Regions from separate parts of the Homo sapiens genome. Here region 2 is linked to region 1. Evidence: fine-mapped expression QTL. Tissue or cell type: whole blood. Region 1 holds a variant in brackets; the other region holds the start of a gene. All regions are shown on one strand. Distances are from middle to middle.

Region 1 (2,844 bases):
GTTGATTTTAGATCTTTCTCACTTTCTCCTGTGGGCATTTAGTGCTTATAAGCACTAAATATATAAATTTGCCTCTAAACACTGCTTTAGTTGTGTCCCAGAGATTCTGGTATGTTGTGTCTTTGTTGTCATTTGTTTCAAAGAACTTATTTATTTCTGCCTTAATTTTGTTATTTACCCAGTAGTCATTCAGGAGCAGGTTGTTCAGTTTGCATGCAATTGTGCGGTTTTGAGTGAGTTTCTTAATCCTGAGTTCTAAGTTGATTGCTCTGTGGTCTGAGAGACTGTTTGTTATGATTTCCGTTCTTTTGCATTTGCTGAGGAGTGTTTTACTTCCCATTATGTGGTCAACTTTAGAATAAATGTGATGTGGTGCTGAGAAGAATGTATACTCTGTTGATTTGGGGTGGAGAGTTCTGTAGATGTCTATTAGGTCCACTTGGTCCAGAGCTGAGTTCAAGTCCTGAATATCCTTGTTAATTTTCTGTCTCGTTGATCTGTCTAATATTGACAGTGGGGTGTTAAAGTCTTTCATTATTATTGTGTGGGAGTCTAAATCTCTCTGTAGGTCTCTAAGGACTTGCTTTATGAATCTGGGTGCTCCTGTATTGGGTGCATATATATTTAGTATAGTTGGCTCTTCTTGTTGCATTGATCTCTTTACCATTATGAAATGCCCTTCTTTGTCTTTTTTGATCTTTGTTGGTTTAAAGTCTGTTTTATCAGAGACTAGGATAGAAACCCCTGCTTTTTTTTGCTTTCCATTTTTTTGGTAAATATTCCTCCCTCCCTTTATTTTGAGCTTATGTGTGTCTTTGCATGTGAGATGGGTCTCCTGAATACAGCACACTGATGTGTCTTGACCCTTTATCCAATTTGCCAGTCTGTGTCTTTTAATTGGGACATTTAGCCTGTTTACATTTAAGGTTAATATTGTTATGTGTGAATTTGATCCTGTCATTATGATGCTAGCTGATTATTTTGCCCATTAATTGATGCAGTTTCTTCATAGCATCAATGGTCTTTATAATTTGGTATGTTTTTGCAGCAGCTGGTACTGATTTTTCCTTTCCACATTTAGTGCTTCCTTCAGGAGCTCTTGTAAGGCAGGCCTGGTGATGACAAAATCTTTCAGCATTTGCTTATCTGTAAAGGATTTTATTTCCCCCTTGCTTGTGAAGCTTAGTTTGGCTGGATATGAAATTCTGGGTTGAAAATTCTTTTCTTTAAGGATGTTGAATATTGGCCCCCACTCTCTTGTGGCTTGTAGGGTTTCTGCAGAGAGGTCTCCTGTTAGTCTGATGGGCTTCCCTTTGTGGGTAACCCGACCTTTCTCTCTGGCTGCCCTTGACACTTTTTCCTTCATTTCAACCTTGGTGAATCTGACAATTATGTGTCTTGGGGTTGCTCTTCTTGAGAAGTATCTTTGTGGTTTCCTCTGTATTTCCT[A/G]AATTTGAATGTTGGCCTGTCTTGCTAGGTTGGGGAAGTTCTCCTGGATAATATGCTGAAGTGTGTTTTCCAACTTGGTTCCATTCTCCCTATCACTTTCAGGTACACCAATCAAACGTACGTTTGGTCTTTTCACATAGTCCCGTATTTCTTGGAGGCTTTGTTTGTTCCTTTTCATTCTTTCTTCTCTAATCTTGTCTTCACGCTTTATTTCATTAAGTTGATCTTCCATCTCTGATATCCTTTCTTCTGCTTAATCGATTCAGCTATTGATACTTGTGTATGCTTCACAAAGCTCTCGTGCTGTGTTTTTCAGCTCCATCAGGTCATTTATGTTCTTCTCTAAACTGGTTATTCTAGTTAGCAATTCCTCTAACCTTTTTTCAAGGTTCTTAGCTTCCTTGCATTGGGTTAAAACATGCTCCTTTAGCTCAGAGGAGTTAGTTATTACCCACCTTCTGAAGCCTACTTCTGTCAATTCATCAAACTCATTCTCCGTCCAGTTTTGTTCTCTTGCTGGCGAGGAGTTGTGATCCTTCGGAGGAGAAGAGGTGTTCTGGTTTTTTGGAATTTTCAGCCTTTTTGTGCTGGTTTTTCTTCATCTTTGTGGATTTATCTACCTTTGGTCTTTGATGTTGTTGACCTTCGGATGGAGTTTTCATTTGGACATCCTTTTTGTTGATGTTGATGCTATTCCTTTCTGTTTGTTAGTTTTCCTTCTAATAGTCAGGCTTCTCTGCTGCAGGTCTGCTGGAGTTTCCTGGAAGTCCAATCCAGACCTTGTTTGCCTTGGTATCACCAGTGGAGGCTGCAGAACAGCAAAGATTGCTACCTGTTCCTTCCTCTGGAAGCTTCGTCCCAGAGGGGCACCCTCCAGATGCCAGTCGGAGGTCTCCTTTAAGAGGTGTCAACCCCTGCTGGGAGGTGTCTCCTAGCAGGAGGCACAGGGGTCAGGGACACACTTGAGGAGGCAATCTGTCCTTTAGCAGAGCTCGAGCACTGTGCTGGGAGGTCTGCTGCTCTCTTTAGAGCTGGCAGGAGGAACGTTTAAGTCTGCTGAAGCTGTGCCCACAGCCACCCCTTCCCCCATGTTCTGTGTCCCAGGAAGATGGGAGTTTTATCTATAAGCCTGTGACTGGGGCTGCTGCCTTTCTTTCATAGATGCCTTACCCAGAGAGGAGGAATCTAGAGAGGTAGTCTGGCTACAAAATCATTGCTGAGCTGTGGTGGACTCCGCCCAGTTACAACTTCCTGGCAGCTTTGTTTACACTGTGAGGGGAAAACCGCCTACACAAGCCTCAGTAATGGGGGACGCCCCTCCCCCCACCAAGCTCCAGCGTCCCAGATCGACTTCAGACTGCTGTGCTGGCAGCGAGAATTTCAAGCCATCGGTCT
Region 2 (2,500 bases), 89 kb before region 1:
CTGCCAGTGGTTTCTCAGAGCTGGAGTAGATGGAGGAGGGGGCAAAGAAAGGGATGGAGGGCATTGGTAGGTGCCCTCTGACAAAAGCTCCTCAGACCAGGCTATAAGGAGTTTCACCACCTTCTGAAGGCGGCGGGAAGGCTAGATTATTGAAGCAGAAGAGTAACAGCTGCACCATGAATTATAAAAACGACGGCTCTGGAGGCAAGATCAGTTAGTTTTTTGTGTGTGTTTGTTTTTCTTTTTAAAGAAGAAAACCAGGCAAGAAACAATGGGATCGCAGCTGAAATAGACGAGGTGGTGACTGAGAGAGAGCATCGAGTCCAACCTTTAGGGCTTCAGGGAGGGATTAGACGTAGGTGTCGGGAGAGGAGGTTCCTGGCCCGGCTATCTTGGGGTGAACGATGGAGTGACAGGGGTTGCGATTTGTGACACCTGACTCCGCCCCGGCCACCCCTGATTGGGCCTTACAAACGTTTAGTTCAAATACAAAAATGGGCCGGACACGGTGGCTCATACCTGTAATCCCAGCACTTTGGGAGGCAGAGGCGGGAGGGCTGCTTGAGCCCAGGAGTTCGAGATCGGCCTGGGCAACATAGTGAGACCTTGTCTTAAAACAACAAACAAACAAACAAACAACAAATATAAAAATATCCAGAAGAAAAACTGAAGGCGGTGGTTACCATTACAACGCGTTTTCGTCAGGGTATATGTGGCTTTAGATTCATCTTGAACGTTTTAATTACAAAATAAAAGCTGATGTCTATGCAACATAGGAAAATATCGACTTGTGTAACATCTCAGTGAGCACACGGGCGTCATATTACTTTCTGTACTTTGCTGTGTGTTTGAACCACATAGCAAAAAACTGTTGGCGACAAGAATTGGAAAAGCAAGAAAGTACAAGAAAGGCTTTGAGTTCTATAAGGGGGTTAAACCAGAAAGCGGCGGGGGCAGGGAACAGTCAATCTTTGTGTGTGCACACTGCGTGTGCAGAGAGAAGACTCCTCAGGAGACCAGGACCTGGCTGAGTGTGTGCGGGGATGAAGCGGGTGGAGGGGAACTGGGGCTGGGGAGGAGGTACGCGCCGCGGAGGTGTCCCCCGCCCCCCACGATCCTTCTCGCCAACCCCCCGCCCCTCCTCCCTCCGTGACGCCGCTTCCCGTCTCCAGGCAACGTGGGGGCCAAACAACACGGCCGGGAGGCGCCGCTGCCTGCCGGGCCCTCTCTTCTGGGACCCTGGATTTTCGGACACTGAGCGCCATGGCCCTGCCTCTGCTGCCGGGCAACAGCTTCAACCGCAACGTGAGTAGGAAGGGCGTCCGAGGTCACAGCTCCCGGCTGGAGTCTGGGGTCCAGGCAGGGTCGTGGCGTGGCCACCTCCGCAGACTCTCCTGGAGGCCCCATGCTGCTGCCCTGGGTTGGTGGCAACTTGGACCAAACTTTATAGGCTGCTTCTCCCATCTCTCCAGCTGCATCTGAATGTTTTTCCTAATTTAGAAATATATAGAGAGAGTCCTTATAGGTGGCAGGACCCTCAAAGGTAACAAATAATAGTGACGATAACCATTGGGGGTTTAATGTGTGCCAGGCGCTGTGCTTTAATCACCTTATGCAGCATCCAGTGTCCCAACAGCCCTTTGAATTAGGTAGTTTTTATTCCCAGTTACTATTGAGGAAACTGAGGCACAGAACCACACAGTCTCAGTGGTGAAGCTGGGTTTCTTTCAAGCAACCTTGTCTCCACAGCTCAGGAGCCTAATCATTATCCCCAGTATCCTGTGTGAAAAAAGATACCGTTTCAATTATCAAATTGAAGAAATCTGGCACTTATCAAGAGGGGTAGGTGGCAGATAAGAGTTCTATCAGCCTGTAAAGTTTACTCCCAAACTTTATAGAGACAGGCACCCAAACTTGGAGGGATTTTTTTTTTCTCTATTTATAATTGGGAGGGGTTCATTTCTTTTTTTTTTTTTGAGACGGAGTCTCGCTCTGTCGCCCAGGCTGGAGTGCAGTGACCCGATCTCGGCTCACTGCAACCTCCACCTCCCAGGTTCAAGCGATTCTCCTGCCTCAGCCTCCCGAGTAGCTGGGATTACAGGCGCCCGCCACCACACCGGCTAATTTTTGTATTTTTAGTAAAGATGGGGTTTCACCATGTTGGCCAGGCTGGCCTCGGACTCCTGACCTCAAGTGATCTGCCCGCCTCGGTCTCCCAAAGTGCTGGGATTACAGGCTGAGCCACTGCGCCTGTCCTGGAGGGGTTCATTTCAAAAGAAGATGAACGTACAGAACAAAGCAACACAACACAAAAAACCCTGAGCATGAAAGAACTTTTGCCAATAAATAGCACCTCATTTAAACGACAGCAGGAAAATGATTCAGGCTTTTGTTTATACTGGTTACTACCCTTCACTTGGGTCAGCCATCTGTGTCTGCAGGAGAAGCTAATTCCCAATTAGATGGGAGGGAATTAGATGGAGCCACTCAAGGCAATTGT

What was found. PIP is the estimated chance that this variant, and not a neighbour inherited with it, causes the effect.
Region 2: it holds the start of EFHC2, and the variant in region 1 is fine-mapped to the expression of EFHC2 in whole blood (TOPMed, PIP above 0.99).

The regions. Positions count from the first base shown.
Region 1 is chrX:44,253,363-44,256,206 of GRCh38, reverse strand. All of the region lies in intron 4 of EFHC2 (EF-hand domain containing 2), which reads left to right. Among named protein-coding and RNA genes, the nearest start is that of EFHC2, 89 kb to the left of the region's middle. RefSeq lists enhancers at 1,889-2,741, 2,742-2,844. The variant A/G (reference allele first, on the strand shown) is at 1,450.
Region 2 is chrX:44,342,352-44,344,851 of GRCh38, reverse strand. EFHC2 (EF-hand domain containing 2) reads left to right here and starts at 1,180. Exons shown (of 15, transcript NM_025184.4): 1 at 1,180-1,305. The coding sequence starts at 1,264.